Linked DNA regions of Homo sapiens: region 1 is linked to region 2. Evidence: fine-mapped expression QTL. A gene starts in region 2. The other region holds a variant in brackets. All regions are shown on one strand. Distances are between the middles of the regions. Region 1 overlaps ATP6V1C1 (ATPase H+ transporting V1 subunit C1). Region 2 holds the start of ATP6V1C1 (ATPase H+ transporting V1 subunit C1).

Region 1 (8,000 bases), 39 kb after region 2:
GGCCAGTGAGGTATTAATAGTTTGCCCAGGATCACACATCTCATTTGTGGCAGGGCTAGAACTAGAACCTAGGTCTTTGGTGTGGTACTTTTTCTGCCTCACTGTGCTGCCTTTTGAAAATTCTTTATTCATTATTGCATACCTACTATGTGTCTATAATTCCTCATTTTACTTGGCAAAGGAAGTGTACCAGAATGGCTACTGGACTGCCGTGTTGATCTCCAGATGTTCACCATCACTTTGAGCTTAGATTTTACCTAATTTGTGTGTTCCTTTTATTTAAAAAACAAACCTGTTTTTATTAAGCACTTTTTAAATTTATAGATTTAACATGCATTGTCTAATTTGAAATTTACAACAAGTCTGTGAAGAAGTATGGACAGTTATCATTCTTATTCTCAAGGAAGAAGAAGTTAAAATGCTTAAATAGTTGCCTGAGGCATATGGCTGTGTAAAGTGTCCAATGGCAGAGTTAGGGCTAGAACTCACATCTTTTAGCTCCAGGTCCTGTACCCTTTTAACACTATTCCATGTCATTTTTCTGTGTTCTGCCATTGCCACACCAGATATTCTTTGAGAAAATATAAATACAGTGTATCTCCACCCCAAAGGATTCTTATAGATATATATGTGCTTCAAGGGGAGGCAGCAGGGTGGAAGATATAGGAGGCAGTAAAGAAGTGGAATTAGTAAGGTCAGGCCCATGAAATATTTTCTTTTCCAGTTTCATTGTGTCATGTGGGAAGTAGCTTAGTATGATGGAAAGAGTCCTGGACTCAGGGATCTGAGTTCTATTGCTGGTTCTGTCACCAGTAGAGTCTGTCACTGGTAGGGTCCGTCACTGGTAGGGTTGTGACTTCGAGTTGTCCAGGTTCTTGGTGTTTTGAACAAAAAATTGGACAAAATGCCCAGCAAAGCAAAATAAGAATGAAGCAACAAAAGAACGAAAGCAGGGATTTATTAAAAATGAAAGAAAGTACACTCCACAGTGTAGGAGCAGACCTGAGCAGTGGCTCAAGGGCCTGGATACAGAATCTTCTTGGGTCCAAATAACTCCTACAAGTTTCCCATTGGCCACTTCATGCTCACCTCATGTAAATGACGTGGTAGCCTGCAGTGAGCCTCATTGGTTGCAGAAAGCAGCCAACCAGAGGCTGAAGTGAAGTTACAAAGGTCACACTCCTGTGCAAATATCTGATTGGTTGCAGAAGGCAACTAATCAGAGGCTAGGGTGAAGTTACAAAGTTATACTTCTATGCGAATGAAGACTCGGCCTCCCAATCAGTCTGATTTGTTGCAGACAGCCAATTTCCCATCTGCCATGCAGGAAAGGTCAAAAGGAGTAGCCTCTGGTCCTTTTGTTACTTAGGCGTGGAAAGTTAGGGTTTTCCTTTCAATTTAGTTCTAGGAAACCGGGGTGAAACAACCTTAGGTTCCCTGCCTCCAGACCCTATTTCCTGCCTCAGTTCTGCTACCAACTTGCTGTGTGACCTGGGGTAAGTCTTTTAACTTCTCTGGGCCTCATTTTCTTTGTCTGTAAATGGAGCATAGCACCTTCCTTGTATATATTATGAAGTTATTTTAAGACTTAATGGAGTATTCAAAATACAAGATAATGTTACTGTATTTTCACAAATGTTGATCTTTTAGGAACTTAACAACAAACTTGTGCTCATCATGAATGTTTTTTTTTTCATTTGGAGGAATATCTTTCCTTCATACCAGCTCTTCACATGGTAAACTGAAGACTACAGTTGTGTCTTGATATTGATGGCTCACTTAGGCTGTTGATACTGACAGATCTTTAGGGCATTAGAGCCGTAGAGGTTGACTCTGTGTCTAGGAGGCAGGTAGAGGAGGAGAGTGAGGACGTGGTGCACCCAGAATGTCCTCCAGAGATGGACATACGCCAACCCAGATGTCCAGGGGGATGGTCTGTAGGCTCATTAAGTAAGCTCAGATTTACTCTGATAGAAAGACTTTAAAAATATTCCATCAGAGATTTAGATCTTTGGACAGTCACTTTAGTAGTTTAAAGGGCAAATTTCAGGAAGGGAACAGTTTAATGCAGTCAAGACTTGTTTGCAAGTGACTTGTAAGTGCACACTAATCTTCCGAGAGCTTCCAGCCTTTCCTTGCTCAGTGAAAACATCTTTTCTACCTATTTCTCAGTTCAAAGTACATTTGGAATCACTGACTCAAAAACTTACCTGTTTAAATTTAGTCAGAGAGAACATAGCACTAGCTCAAATAGCACCATCAAGAGTATGTGCAGTTCATGTAGGGGCAAATAGGCTTTTTTGAGTGAGCCTGGAATATTGTCTGCCATTTAGGAAAGATCTCTATGACCTGATGCTGAATTTTTGGCTTATCATCACAACCAGCATTTTTGAGTAATTACTGTGAGCTAGTCTTTGTTCTATGTGCTTTACACAAGTTAATTAATTATAGGTAGTAACACATTACTTTTTGGTATGATAACTTGAGTGATTATTGTTGGGAGCAGTGAAGATGAAAGTGGAATTTTGAGGTAGATTGAAAAATATTCACTTTAATATTCAATCTAATATTTTTCAATCTATTCTTCTAACTGTCCTCAAACCTGAAAGAATTTTAAAGTTCACAAAATATAACTATTTATAAAATATTCTACAAAGATTGGACGGTTTTGAAATACTACCATTGCTGTGAGGCTAAATGCAGCAATGTGTATAAATGCCATGCCAAGGCTGTGGCCAAAGAAGTGGAGGCTGTGCTGCTGTTCTGCTTTTTTTTGTTGAAACACTGTTCAGAAAGAGGTGCTTTTCACTTGTCCTTTCAGAATTACCACTTTCCTATTTTTTTTTTTTTTGTCTGCTTTTGCTTGTTAAAATAGTCTGATTGAGTCAGATCACTGGTTAACTTTTGCCTTTTCTCTGTCATTGGAAGCAACATCACAAACTCATGGATGCTTCACAGAGGTTTTTCTTTAGGGATCTGGAGTCCCCAGTGAAGCAGAGGAGCCTAGCTAAGAAGTGCAGGAAGAATGATACTGGCCACTGTCCAGAAGTTTCTCTATGTTTCAGAGTTTCTGAGGGAGATGGTCTGTTCTCCTGTCAGTACCACTTCAACCACACCCATGGCTCTAGCCTCACCTGCAGTTTTCGGACTGCTAAATCTTCGTCTGTAGCCAGCCTTCCCCCCAACCACATACCTGGTTCCTACTGGACCACTCCATGTGGTATTTCCTAGGTAACTGACACTATCACCCCAATCTCAGACTCAAACTCTCTAGTTGCCCTGTAGTATATGGCAGCAACATCTGCCCAGTGATCCAAACCGCAAGTGTGGTAGTCAGTGATTTTGGAATCTTCCTTTGCCCTTGCACCCCCCTCCCCCCACCGGCCCCCCACCTGAAATAGTCTAATCAGTTATGTCATTTCCACCTTCCATAGTATTTGGTTGAACCGTTAAAAATTGATGTTTTGTAGGTCAGAAAATGGTCAAATATCTACAATTTCATAGGGTTAAATCTACTCTCCCCACTCCCCCAAGACCCACTGCCACTGCTCCAGCTCTGACTCCCTCATCCCTTGCCTGGACCATGGTAATTGACCCTAGCTGGTCTCCTTTTCTCCTCTCATCAGTCCTCCACATTGCTGCTGTTTTCATCTTTGTGACATACAAATGTGTTGCTTTCCCGTCTAAAACCCTGCTTGTCCCTCCCCATTTTGACTGCCTGCCCCCAGCA[C/A]GCACACACACACACACACACCCACACACCCACACACCCTCTTCTTGTACCCTATGTCCCAGCCATATATGTATATATATATTGTTTTTCTTTCTTTCTTTTTTTTTTTTTTTGAGACACAGTCTCTCTCACCCAGGCTGGAGTGCAGAGGTGTGATCTTGGCTCACCGCAACCTCTGCCTCCCGGGTTCAAGTGAGTCTCCTTCCCCAGCTTCCCAAGTAGCTGGGATTACAGGCATGTGCCACCACACTCAGCTGATTTTTGTATTTTTAGTAGAGGTGAGGTTTCACTATGTCGGCCAGACTGGTCTCGAGCTCCTGACCTCTAAGTGATCTGCCTACCTTGGCCTCCCAAAGTGCTGGGATTACAGGCATGAGCTACCATGCTGAGCCCCGGTTATACTTATTTCTGGCAATTCCTCAGATGCACCATGTTATTCCACATCTATATTCATTTGCATATGGGGTTCTGTCTGGAACGTTCTTCTCTTTTTTGTCTTTCTTTCAAACTTCCACCTGGTATCACCACTTTGGTGAAACTCCTTTGAATCCCCTCAGATAAAGTTACTAATTCCCCAGTGTATCATGTATATTTTCTATTGCAGCACTTACAACTCTATATTGCAGTTACTTGTGTATGCCTGTTTCCTTTACTAAACCCATACCTGGAGATCAGGAAATGCTGTCTTAGTTTTATACTAATATCTAGCAAGTGCTTGCATTACAGAGTCTCAGTACATGTTAAATGACTACAAGTCTGTTATAGTAAGGACTCGTGGTTTATTTTTTAAACAGTTTTAAGAAATACCTTTCCTTAGGGGAAAGAGGGAAAGCAAGTGGCTTTTATTTGTTTTTCATAATAAGGTGGCATAGTAGGATTTAGTTATAAGATAAGATGGAGGTTTTATCTTGGCTTTTTTCACCATCAGGATTTTGAGTAAGCCATAGGAATTTGCTGTGTCCCAGATCTCTGCACAATAGCTAGGAACCTGCTTAATAGGTAACCTGTTCATTGACACAGGGCCATGTCAAGCACCAAATGCTTTTGGAAGGGTCTTCAAAACAGCAAAGTGTTGGATAAGTTTAAAAGATTACTATGATAACAGTAAAACATTATTTGTGGCCCTGAAATAGCCTGTCAAGTTAGATTTGGATTTGTTTTGATCTCAAGCAGTTCACACATCACTGAGTAAATCTTGGCAAAGCAGAAGATCCTTAAACGGTTTTTTAAATCGAGCTCTGTCCACTTGGTAGCTGCCCTTCATTGGGTTTGATGGACACCAGGAGCAAGAATTAAGGGTAATCATTTTGAGAAGATACAGTTTAACAGGAGGTTCTAAATCCAGAGTACTTGAGTTTTCTCTGCATGTCAGCGATTACAGTGATCAGTACTCCTGGAGGTGTCTGCTGGTCATACACTAGGGAGGTGCCCCTGCTGGCTGGCTGACGAGGAGTAGGGTAGATTCAGTACTTAAAGCCATTCTGTGATTAACACTGTAATTGCCTCCTGAATTTACTTGGCTAAACAGGTGGTTCTTAGGCTTCAGGAAAAACTACACTTGCTTTAAACATTTTTTTAATATAGTATCTTTAAATTCCCCAGCATTCCTCCATTTTGTAAAATTTCCTTTTTCTGATTTCAGAAGTACCACATTGTAAAACTGAACATTAAAAAACAAAGAAAACAACCAACAAAAGGGCACAAGGACCCTTTTGGTAGTGAGGGGTATGTTTATTGTCTAGATTGTGGTGATGGTTTCATGGGTATATGCGTATGTCCACACTTCAGATTATAGACATTAAATGCGTACAGTTTTCTGTATAACGATTATATCTCAGTAAAGCTGTTTAAAAAACACTAAACATTAGAAGAACTCCAGTATGTGAAAGACAGAAAGGAGAAGAGATTCCCCTCAGTAACATTCCCCTGCCCCAAGGTTATCGCTGTGGAACAGCTGCCTGTGCAGCCTTGTGGACCTCACATAAGGACTTCTATACAGGAGGCACTATAGGTAAATTCTGAAAGCCAAATTTGGACCATACTATCACAAGCGATACCATTCACCTTTCAAACAGTGGACTTTCACCCAAGGTATTACAGATTTAAATGACCATTAAAATTACCTGGCAGTTGTGTCTGGAAAGGTCTTTCTAGTGATGTCCATGGAGCTGTGACTGAATGGAAGTTCTGACCTCACTGGGACCTTCTAAAGCCTAAAATGGAGCCATGAGATGCATACAGGCACTTTTATTCAGAGATTATTTAGACAGTTGTGTTCATCAGGGTTTTTTTTTTTTTTTTTTTTTTTTTTTTTGACAGGGACTCACTCTGTCACCCAGGCTGGAGTGCAGTGGTGCAATCTCAGCTCACTGTAGCCTCAACCTCCCCAGCTCCAGTGATCCTCCCACCTCAGCCTCCCGAGTAGCTAGGACTACAGGCATGCACCATCACGCCTGGCTAGTTTTTGTATTTTTTGTACAGACACAGTCTTGCCATGTTGCCCAGGCTGGTCTCAAAGTCCTGAACTCAAGCAATCACCCACCTCAGCCTGCCAAAGTGTTGGGATTACAGACATAAGCCACTGCACCCAGCCTGTCAGTTTTTGATTGAGAGATGTCATGGGAGCAAAGGAAAGATCCAAGGTTTAAGGTACTGGCAATGCAGAGAGGCTAGGCTGGGCATCAGTGGGGCTGAGTTGGCCTGGAGAAAGGAAGAAAGAATTAGGCTTCCAGAAAAGAAGAGTGTGCTTATCAAGGAGACACTGGAAACAAAGCAGCTTGGCGCTGATGTTGATTGAAAAGTGTGGTTCTTAGCGTTTGGATGCTTTACTGGAGTTAATGTCTAATTTTGTTGGTTAGTAAGAAATAAATGTAGAGTGTTAAGGTATCATAAGCAAAATAAATCATAAACATTCAGTATCTTCGGTGTTTGAGGCAATCCAGATTGAAAAGCATTGAGGTGATTTGGGAAGGGCTATTATACCCTACTTTTCTCTTCCACCTGTTTCTGAATTTTGCCCTTAATATGAAAGACAGCAATACGTATAAATCTTTAAATGGACTTTTTTTTTTTCCATAGTGTTCTTTCAGAGGACCAAGACAGTTACCTGTGTAATGTCACCTTGTTTAGGAAGGCAGTTGATGACTTCAGACACAAAGCCAGAGAAAACAAGTAAGATTATTGTTTTTTTGTTTATTTACTTTGTTAGATCAGCTGTATACAATGTGAACAATTTTGTTTTTTTTCCCCCAAATTTAGATTCATTGTTCGTGACTTCCAGTATAATGAAGAGGAGATGAAAGCAGATAAAGAAGAAATGAACAGGCTTTCTACTGATAAGAAAAAACAATTTGTATGTGTTTTTAATATTTAGTATTATCAGTACTAAGCAGAAGAAAAAGTGGTATTGCTTTCCTTTGATTTAAAAGAAAGTAAAAATCTGCTTTGGTTTTAAGACATTTGATTTTAGTTTTTTTTTTTAATTGAATAATCAGAATGAATTTCCTCTAAAGCTTAACTGTTCTAGAGATAACTATTCTATTTCTAAGAAAGCTTTCTTCTAAAGCTTATGTCTATCTGAGATAGAATAGAGTAGATAGAATAGTTATCCTAAAATACATACTTAAAAAGAAATTACTCCACCTAAATCCATATCAGACATTAATTTTAAATGCAGTATTCTGGTTAACATCCTTGTAGGTGAAGGGTGATTTTAGTTAAGTAACGAAGTTCTTTTCAGTAAGACTTTTCACTTTCTTGAGGCAGATTTTTTCAATGCCTCAATCTTTTATTGAAGCAATTTGTATTTAAGCTATTGGAGAATTGGTGTGTTCTAGGTGTAATGGGAAACGAGTGGAATTGTGAAAATCAAAGATGGTGTTAACTTTCTTGCCATCTTCAAGTGTGGGATTACTGTGAAGACTAAAAGCTTGTTTGGAAAGGGAAACATAATGAGTGAAAATGTGTTTCTCTTAATAATGTAAGAGGAAATTAAGGGAAATATTGAAAATTATTTCCAAGTACTTTATAAGCCATATCATCTCAACTAGGAGGAAACTCATTCTAACCAAGTAATGTCAAAATAACCAGCTTTTTAGGGCAAACCCAAAATCCTTTTAAAAAATAGATATTTTGACAAGATTTTCACTTGTTTTGCTATCCTTTTGCTTAAATTAATTGTTTGGTACATCCAAATGAGCCTAATAATGTTATCCAAGGAAGTGTTAGCTGAATCTTTTAAGTATGGAGAGAGGAGGTATTTGAAATCCGC
Region 2 (10,786 bases):
CTGCCTCCCAGGTTCAAGCAATTCTCATCCCTCAGCCTCCTGAGTAGCTGGGATGACAGGCATACACCACCACACCTTAATAATTTTTGTATTTTTTAGTAGAGACAAGGTTTTGCAATGTTGGCCTGGCTGGTCTTAAACTCCCGGCCTCAAGTGATCCGTCTTCCTTGGCCTCCCAAAGTGCTGGGATTACAGGCATGAGCCACCGTGCTCAGCCCTTAGTATTGCTTTTATCAATTTGTTCAAGCTCTCTGTATATTATAACCTGGATAGCATATATGTCTACAAAAGAATTTTGCATAAAGGCATTTGAGCGTAGACTTTATTAAAGCTCTGGGAAGATGGCAAAGGATTTAAATCACAGCAACTGAAGTAAGCTCAAATTGAGTTCTAAATATTCCTCTTTTTATAAGTCCCTTGTCATTTGTCTTTCTCTTTTCTCTTTCTTTCCTTCTCTTCCCTATGCCTCTCTCCCATCTCTTCATTCTCCAATTTCTGTTGCTTTTCAGTGGAAACTAGCTCAAGTTATTTCTTTGGTCTTTGCCTCCATTTAACCATACTCTCAGTTTTTCTTCCACCCTAGTGGAAGATATTAGTTTATCAAGGTATTTTCTTAAACAAGGACACTTAGTTTCCTAAGGGAAATGCCAGTAACAACTTTCAAGATATCTTGACTATTATACCAGAGTGAAAAAGAGTTCTGAATCCTGTTGCCCTATTTGCTTCAAATACTTTCTCCACTTTGTTTAACTAATGGATACTAGGCTTAATACCTGGGTGATGAAATAATCTGTACAACAAACCTCCTTGACACAAGTTTACCTATGTAACAAACCTGCGCACGTACCCCTGAACTTAAAATAAAAGTTAAAAAATATTTAAAAAATTAAAAAAAGAAAACAGTAATCAAAAAACAAAATAATTGGTTGCTGGTATGATTCCATCCTGCACAGCTGTTCTCTGGAGCGTGGTTGTTTACCTCTGCCTGGCTTCTCTCCTACCTAAGTGCTTGCCGCCACCCATGGAAGATTTGACGGACATGGACATCAGCCTCCTGAGGCCCCAGAACTATCTTTTTGGTTGTGACTAGAGGCCAACAAAGATTATCACTTTAAGGTGGATAATGATGAAAATGAGCACAAGTTATCTTTAAGAATGGTCAGTTTAGGGGCTGGTAGAAAGGATGGATTTTATATTGTTGAAGCAGAAGTAATGAACTATGAAGGCAGTCCAATTAAAGTAATACTAGCAACTTTAAAAAGGTATGTACAGTCAATGGTTTATCTTGGGGGCTTTGAAATAACATTGCCTGTGGCCTTACACTCAGTGTGTTTCAGGGCCTGGGCATATGAGTACACAGCACTTAACAGGTATGAAGGAAGATACAAAGCAGGACATGAAGAGGAGGGAGATGTGAGACTTTTCAGTATATCTGGAAAGTGATCTGCCCCTGGAAGTGGGTACATTTCTACAAGAAAAAAATAAAACTTCTTGCTGATGAAAATCATGATGATGATGAAGAGGAAGAACATTTTGATGAAGGGAAAACTGAAGAAAAAGCTCTAGTGATGAAATTTATACAGGATACTCCATCCAAAAAATGCACAAAGATCAAACCAAAATAAAAAAGACTCAGAACTATCAAGATTAAGACCAAAAGGTCAAGAATCCTTCAAAAACAGGGGGAAAAAACCTCTTAAAACACCAAAAGGACCTAGTTTTGTAGAATATATTAAAAGCAAAAATGCAAGCAAGTATAGAAAAAGTTGGTTCTCTTCCCAAAGCTAAGTGCATCAATTATGTGAAGAATTACTTCTGGATGACCAACTAGGAGGCTATTCACCATCTCTGGCAGTGGAAGAAGTCTCTTTAAGAACACAGTTTAGGCCAAGCGTGGTGGCTCATGCCTGTAACCCTAGCACTTTGGGAGGCCAAGGTGGGCAGATCACTTGAGGTCAGGAGTTCAAAACCAGCCTGGCCAACATGGTGAAACCTTGTCTCTCCAAAAATAAATAAATAAATAAATAAAAATACAAAAAATTTGCCAGGCGTGGTGGTGGATGCCTGTATTCCCAGCTACTTGGGAGGCTGAGACAGGAGAATCGCTTGAACCTGGGAGGCAGAGGTTGCAGTGAGCAGAGATCACGCCATTGCATTCCAGCATGGGCAACAGAGTGAGACTCTGTCTCAAAAAAAAAAAAAAATAGTTTAAACAGCTTGTTAAAATTTTCTTTCTTCTTTTTTTTTTTAAATCTTTTAACCCAATAGTTCTTTTAGAGAAAAAAATTACCTGTCATTTCGTTAATAGTTCTTTTAGAGAAAAAAATTATCTGTCATTTCATTTCTGTAACAGTTGATATCTAACTGTCCTTTTTACAATTCAGAGTGAGAAGTTCCCTAGCACGTTGGATAAATATTGTCCAGGTTCCATTGCCAAAAATGTGTTGTCCAAAATGCCCCTGTAGTTTTTAAAGATGAAACTCCATCGTTTGCTTGTTTTTTTTTTTGAGACAGAGTCTTGCTCTGTCACTCAGGCTGGAGGGCAGTGGCACTATCTTGGCTCACTGCAGCCTCTGGCTCCCAGGCTCAAGCAATTCTCCTGCCTCAGCCTCCCAAGCAGCTGGGATTACAGGCATGCACCACCACACCCAGCTAATTTTTGTATTTTTAGTAGAGATGGCATTTTGCCATGTTGGTCAGGAAGGTGTCAAACTCCTGGCCTCAAGTGATCTGCCCACCTCAGCCTCCCAAAGTGCTGGGATTACAGGTGTGAGCCACCACGCCTGGCTCTTTGCTTGGTTTTCAGTATATATGTATGTATGGAATATTATGATAGGACATAGTAGTAGCTGTGGTCAGACAAATGGAAATGGTGGGAAGACAAAAATATGTAACTGAAATAAGCTCAATATTTTAATAAAGGAAAAAATAAATTTTTTCCCCGGAAAAAGTTGTAAGAAAAAAATAAATCTTCTCCCATGCATCTTAGGAGTGCTTTAAACTTAGATGTTTGGAGATGAGTAGTCTTTAGATAGGTGGAAATGGAGGAAAAGGTGTGACATGCCCATGGCTACCTAGTATGCTTCTATGCATAGTACAGTTTTTAAAAAGTGAGTTGCTTCTCTGTAAAAACATATTACTTTACTATTAGAAACCACTGGAGAGCAATCATGCCCTGCTTATATTAAACATCTTTGCTAGATTTTTATTTGATTTTTTGAGATGGGGTCTTGCTCTGTTGCCCAGGCTGGAGTGTATGGTGCAATTTTAGCTCACTGCAGCCTCGAACTCCTGGGCTCAAGGGGTCCTCCCACCTCAGCCTCCCGAGTAGCTGGGACTATAGGCATGCACCACCATGCCCAGCTATGTTTCCTAAATTTTTAAGTGAGATACATTAAACCTCATAAAAATTAGAGCTAACATTTATTGAACACTCTGTTGTACTGCCTCCCAAGTATAACATGGTAATTAAAACACTGGAGGCCAGGCACGATGGCTCACCCCTGTAATCCCAGCACTTTGGGAGGGCCAAGTGGGCAGATCACTTGACCTCAGGACTTGGAGACCAGCTTGGCCAACATGAGGAAAACCCGTCTCTACTAAAAATACAAAAATTAGTTGGGTGTGATGGTGCACGCCTGTAGTCCCAGCTACTTAGGAGGGCAAGGCACAAGAATCGCTTGAACCCGGGAGGTGGAGTTTGCAGTGAGCTGAGATCGCACCACTGCTCTCCAACCTGGGCGACAGGGCGAGACTCCATCTCAAAAAAAACCCCAAAACTAAAAAAAAAACCCCAAATGTTGGAAAGTTGCGCGAGGTATAATTCAGTTTAGAAATTAAGAATCCAAGACAAAAAGTCTGCCTCAGGACCACACACAAGCACGAAGAAACCAAGATAGTTCAAGCATGGACCTTAAAACTGCACTGTCTAAGGCTGTTGTCACTGGTCTCATGTGGCTATTTAAATTTTAATTAAAGTGAAATAAATTTTAAAATTCAGTTACTAAGTCACACTAACCATATTTCAAGTGCTCAATGGCTCCATGTAGCTAGTGGGTACTGTACAGACAGCACAGGATAACATTTGCATCATGGCAGAAAGTTTTAGTGGACCTAACCAAAAAAAAAATGCCTTTAGGCTCATTTCGTGATGGCAGATAAAAGCCTCTGGAATTCTGATAAGTTTCTGAAGCCATGTTATAGAACTGGTTATTGTAATTGCATGAACTTCATCCAAAACTGGTGAAAGCGTCAGGTTGGGGATAGTCTGGTGGTTGTTACTTTCTGTCCAACCTAATACTGAGGCTCTGAGAAATTCTGTGGTGAATTTCTGTAGGGGGACACAGCAGAAAAGGCATAGTATAGGTCAGAAAACCTGGGTCCTATAATACATAGTAATAATGACGACCATTTACTGGTTGTTTCCTATGTACCAGGCACTGTGCTAACCACAGGCTTCATTTAATCCTCACAATACCTGTGTAAGGTATTATTACCACCACTTTGCATGTGAACAGGCTGAAATTCAGAGGAGTAAGGTCACACAACTAGTAAGTAGGAGAGCCTGGATTCAACACCTGGTATCTATTCCCTTGCGCTGAACAACTCCGTGCCCTCACTTTCTTCATCTGTAGATCTAAAAGGATTAAATTAGAACATCTCAAAATTTCTACTACTTCTAAAACTCTGTGTTCTAAATTAGGACATTACTATCTATCTCCCCAAGCTAATGAAATAAGCAGGGTTCCTGGGAGGAGCTTGTTACCTATTTTTCTCCAAAGGAGATGCTTTCCCCTGTCTATGCCTCTGTCCTAAAACCTTTGGTTTCCCACTATCTAATGTGGTTTCAACTATCTATGAGGCGCTTTCGTGGCAAGGAGTGATTCTCTCCAGTAGGCAATCCTAAGAACGAGCGCAGTGCTTGGCGCACAGTAAATGCTCCATGGACCATTTATGAAATTAAGTCTAAGTGGACTTCAGGAAAATGTGAATCTGCTAAAATGAACTACTAGCCAGTATACTAGGTAGAAAACCCAGCTGACGAAGAAAACCCCAAGTGGAGAAGCCCTTGTAGGGGGTTGGAGACAATTTCTGACCCGCAGAAACCTGCAGTGGCGCTGACGTTTACAAGTGGTGGACAAAACGCCACTTGCAACACTGGAAGAAGCGGAAAACCCCACCCACTCTGGAACAACAGCGATCAGCCCCGAATATAGGGTCCCCTTGCCGCCCCGTAGCCTCCTAGTCCCGCCCCTCTCCCAAGGCCCGGCAGTGGCAGCGGCTGCGGCTGCGCAGTGGCGCGGGCGTAGGCGGAGCAGCGCGCGCCGCGGTCAGCTGACTGCTGGGCTGGCACGTGACTTGTTCTGTGTTCGCTTGGGTAGAGGAAGCCGTGAGGCCGGAGCTTAGGTCGGGAAGGGATGGATCGCTGAGCCGATAGCGTCCGCTAGGCTGTCTGCCTCGGTACCTGTTACTGCTGCTACTTCCTCGTTTGACACCTTCCTGGGTCAGTGAGCGATGGCTCTCCCCGGATGGGGAGTCCTGGTCAGGCCGAAGCATGAGCTCCGGTCGCTGCCTGGGAGGGACGCGGGTGGGTGCGGGGGCAGAGACCGTGGCGTTGGAGCTGGAGCTGGCTGGGTGGCTGTGTCTGGTTTCTCGGCGCCAATTCACCGTCTTGGGCCTAGGTTCCGTCTCTAAGGAAGAGAAGGAGGGAAAAAGAGAAAGAGCTCTCGTGGGTAGTTAATGACAGGCAGAAAGGAGAGATACAGCGGTCTGGGATCTTTCTTCTTGGGTAGGAATGCACGCCGCCTGATTGATTGAGGGGAATGAAGTGATAGGTCCAGGTGAGGCTATGGAGTGGTGTGTGTGAGGTCACAGCTAGCGCAAGTGCCTTCACTGGGTGTGTGTTGGGGGGGGCGCGGGTGTCGGGGGTCGGGGGTGGTGGGATGACAGTTTAAAGGCCTAGGAGCCCCTAACTGCAGGCAAGGAACCCTCACAGAGTACACAAGGTCCCTCTAGGAATGAGAAAGAACAGGAATCCAGAGAACTCAACTATTTTTTAGTAGAATGGGGGAGGGTAGGCAAACAAAACAGAACAAAACAAAACAAACCCCTAGAAAAGAACTTGGTGAGAGTCACATAAGGCATATTGAATCACTTGAGAAACAGGAGTAAGGGGGAAGCTAGTATTCTTTTCAGAGGAAAATTCTGGTATGTTAGGGAAAAATCACATGCTTCAGTGCGAGCCCAGTACTTAGCGCCGCTCTGGGAATGGAACGGGTGGGATGTGAACAGTCTATCCTTAGGAGTTAGCACTAACGTTGGAGAGAAAAGTCTACACACAGGACACGTTAAAATACGATGCAGTTTATGTATACTTACCAAAAAGAGAATGCGAAGTGCTTTGAAAGTGTGGAGCAACGACACATGTGTAAACTGGCACTATGGGAAGATATTCTGGAGGAAAGAAAACTTGAGTCTTGGCAAGCCCTCAGGATTTGAACAGGTTGAGAGAAATGGGGATAATTTTACAGGCAGGGAAAGCCACAGGATTTGAAAGCCTGAAGATGGGGGTAGGGAATGCTTCTGGTGGAGTCAGAAGTAGCTTTTACAGTGGATTGCACTGCGGAGAAGTGGGAAAGAAAGTTGGGAGTCAGGTAACGAGGACTTTTGAATGGTAGTCGTTTACTTATTCATGCAAATAATGTGTACTGAATACATGCTGTATGCAGGTACAGTGCTGATGGTAGGGTTTAGAAAATTGTCTTTATAGAGCTTACAGGCAAGCAGAGGGGATGGATTTTAAAAATCAAGCAAGCGTGAAATGTGCTTTGAAGGAATAACAGTGGTATGAAAGAGTGTAGTAGGGGCATGTGTATTATGGAAGATTTTAAAAAGGCATTGCTAAGAATATGACTTTTTAAAGATTAAAACAATTTTATTTATATTCTTCATACCCTCTCGCTCTGAGAGGGTATGACTTTTGACCTGAGATCTGAAAAGAGACTGAAAAGGGAATGTGAAGGTGTGAGTGAAAAGAACATTCCAGGCCTGGCAGGGTGGCTCGTGACTATAATCCCAACATTTTGGGAGGCTGAGGTGGGAGGATTGCCTGAGGCCAGGAGTTCAGGACCAGCCTGGGCAACATAGTGAGACCACCGTCTCTACCAAAAATAAAAAAATAACTAGCTGGGAGTGGTGGTGTGTGCTTGTAGTCCTAGCTGCTCGGGAGGCTGAGGCGAGAGGATCATTTGAGCCCAGTAGTTCGAGGCTGCAGTGAGCTGTGATCATGCCACTGCACTCCCTCCTGGGAAACAGAGCTAGACCCTGTCTCTGAAAAACGAAAAAGGAACATTTCAGGCTGAAGCAACAGCGTATGTCAAGGCCCTGAAATGTGAAGAGGAAGAAAGCTTTTCAGCCTTTTTGAAAGGCTAGCATGGCTGAAACGGGGAGGGAGAGAGGCAGGTGGAGAAAGCTGGGGTCACGCCAAGCAGAGCTTTTATTCTAAAAACAGAGGGAAGCCAGTGAAGATTACAGGCAGTGGATTGAGACAGGTTGTGGCTTTTTTTTTTTTTTTTTGGTGGGGGGGAGATAATGTGGAGGGTGGCAAAAGTGAATGAGGGGAGACCCGCTCAGGGGAACATTGTTGTAATCCACTGAAGGATTTGAAGACAAGATACCTTCTCTCTCCACTGAGGACTTCAGAATGTTTAACTGTATTCACTTTTAGAGGGTTCAGGACTTGGGGAAGGGAAAGAATGATTCGATTCTATTTGTACCCTTCACAGGGTAGTCGTAACTACCCTCGAGGCAGTCCTGAAGTACATAGCAGAGGCTCTTTTGCAAAAATTTGTTTTGGCTTTTCAAATTTATCCTTTTGTAAGGTCATCTATTTCAGAATATCTTTTATTGAAATATAGTTACAGGGAGGGATCACTTTCATATTTATTTTGTTCTCACAGTTCTTTGAAAGACAGTGGATGAAAATGCTATTCATTGTATAGATGGGAACCTGGAGCTAGAGAAACACGTAAAGTGATTTGGCTGAGTCCGGAGTAACTGCCACAGTTTTCTGACTGCTGATGTATTCCTGCTGATTACCTACACAGTACTAACCACAGTCACATCTAGAGAAAAGGGCGAGTTTTTTGAAGTGCACAGTAGTCTTTGATTCAGCATTTTTTTTTGGGGGGGGGGAACTTCTCCCTGAAGAGTCAGCACTTTTGATGAACTTTTTCTAGTAGAACAGCTTCAAAGGAATTGGCAGTGGTGGGCTATGTCTTATCTATAATCTTGGATAGAGCTGTTCAATTTACAGTTCATCTGGAGGAAATAATGAACAATAAGGTGAACTGAAAGTGCTCAGGTTGTCAATCACAGTTCTTTGGCAAAAAGTGAGTCTCAAATTATGCTGAAGACTGAGCCTCAGGGTTCTGTCTCAGAAGTCCTGGATCTTTTTCTCTTTTGGTATACCTTGTAGGGACTAGATAAAATCTAAAGAAACAGTACTCAGGATCTAACTAAATGCTGAGAGCTAGATAGTGTAATTCAGCTTTTAAAACTTGGCACAAAATACTCATTTTTATTTTTTTGGTATATTAGTCTTAGGAGCCTCATGTACATTAGTTTTTTCAACCTAAAAAGAAACTTCAGGGCTTCAAAAATCTGATTTTGTGATTATTTCCACAACTCACGAGATAATACCATTGGCCAACTGGAATGCCAAAGTAAACCTTTGCCAAAGGTCTCCATGTAGTTTACCCGTCCCTAAGCAGCAAGTCTTCTTTTGAACTTGGTTCTGCTTAGGAGTACTACAGTTTTGACTGAGTACCTCCTACTTAAAATTTTGCTCTTGTACATATTTAAATCTGTCTACAGGTTACATCTTTTTCACTCTTTGGGTGTGGAATTATATATCATTTATAAATTAATTCATGTTAGATTTCCATTTTTCATCAATTTTTAAAGACAGACATAGTATAAACATTAGCATAGTGCCCTTGGGACGCTTAGGCAGTGAACCAAGGCAGTCTAAAATTTCCTATTGACATGAGTGATTCTTGGAACTAGAAATTTCAAACTATATTCTTGATGCTGAAACAAAATTTTTTATCCAGCAGGACATCTACTTCTAAGATTATACCATGTGCAAATGTACTATGCGTTTATTGAGTTAAAAAAATGAGCCAGGTAGGCAGTGGAGGAGAGGTGCTTTGGTTACTATGCATTTATTGAGTTAAAAAATGAGCCAGGTAGGCAGTGGAGGAGAAGTGCTTTGGTTACATCGGGGATAAAAGAGTATTAACTGTATATCTAAAATGTGGGGTGTGTGTGTGTGTGTCTGTGTGAGTATGTGTGTGTATTTGAAAATAAAATGCTAGGTAAGTGATGTTTTATAGAAAGGGATCGATGGATCTTCTAAGATATTTTAAACAGACTATCAATGAATAGGAAGTTGTAAATTAAGGCGTGTTAACAGGTGGTTTAACTTTACCATGAAAGGTTTTCCTTTTGAATCAGCCCATAGTTTAGTGTTTCTATGTGGGTGCTATTGGCAGTTTGGAGGTCTGTTTCGCCCCTACCCACTAAATGCTGATTAGCGATCTCCACATTGGGACAACCCAAAATGCTCCCATACATTTCCAGACTCCTCCTGGAGGAGAGAGGCACCATTTGGTGCAAAACATGCATGTGGTGTCAGTTTATTTGTTGGACAAATATTAAGATGTTGAGGTTACAGAGGTTAAAAGTAATATTTTAATAAACTGCATATAATGGAATTCAAGTAATTTAAAATCTAGTGTTTGATGTTTTAATGTAACTCCTTTAGTGTAAAATTACTGAAACTATATCCTAATATTTCTTTGAGGCACTTGTCTTTTGTAAAACTGCATGAATAACTCAAATAGAGTCCCCTTAATCCCAATAAAATGTAGTCACTAAATGTCTTTGGGCAACTAATTTCACCAGCTGTTCCCTCATTTGCAAGTGGGGGTGGTGATAACACATCTTGTGAGGGAATTAAATACAAAATTGCTTTAGTAGATGCAAGTGCTTATCACTGGGCACAACATGTGGTACATATTCAGTGATAGTTGTTACCAGTAAACAGAATCTCAAGCTTACTTAGGGTCATGAGTTGGAGAAAACTAATCTTAAAGTCTTTAAGTTGGTGAATTTCAGGCCAAAATACATTGTATTGGAGATATCAGCACCTTCTAGCAGAATGTGGTACCGTGGTCCAGTCACTATTATAAATTGCCAGCCATGAAGAAAAGGGAAGTCATGTTTTGGGAGCCATGAGTGTAGATTCAGGGAATCCCCTGGCATGGAAGGAATTATTTGCCCACTGGGTCACCGCTGAGTTGCCTGTGCAGAGGAGGAGTCTCTAGAAGCTGAGAAGGTTTTGGTGATTACTTGCAGTAATGGGTGTACGACAGGGCCCTCCTGGCCATGTCTGCCAATTCAGTAGCTTTACCAGAAGTTACTAGAAATTTTCCAACATTGTATTATGTATTACATCCCCAGCCCCCACTCCACAATGTCACAGTGTGTTTCCAGTTTTTGTGATAGGTATCTGTGTGAAAGTAAGGCTTTGCTTTTACAGATTGCTTTCTAGGCAAATGTGGAATAAAAAAATTGTAGTTGATAAAATGAGTCTAATAAAGATTAAATTGCCTTTCATATTTAAGTATATTTATGGCAAGAAATTATGGTAGTTTTAATAGGATTATAGAGCATTTATGGGTATTGTTTCCATTGAAAACAAAACACGGAATATTTAAGATTT

The links. PIP is the estimated chance that this variant, and not a neighbour inherited with it, causes the effect.
Region 1: its variant is the best candidate, but not a certain one, in a credible set for the expression of ATP6V1C1 in whole blood (TOPMed, PIP 0.75).

Annotation. Positions count from the first base shown.
Region 1 is chr8:103,056,147-103,064,146 of GRCh38, forward strand. It overlaps ATP6V1C1 (ATPase H+ transporting V1 subunit C1), which reads left to right. Exons shown (of 13, transcript NM_001695.5): 9 at 6,809-6,901; 10 at 6,989-7,082. Among named protein-coding and RNA genes, the nearest start is that of ATP6V1C1, 39 kb to the left of the region's middle. The variant C/A (reference allele first, on the strand shown) is at 3,731.
Region 2 is chr8:103,015,723-103,026,508 of GRCh38, forward strand. ATP6V1C1 (ATPase H+ transporting V1 subunit C1) reads left to right here and starts at 5,361. Exons shown (of 13, transcript NM_001695.5): 1 at 5,361-5,503. It also overlaps the pseudogene NPM1P52. RefSeq lists an enhancer at 5,591-5,800.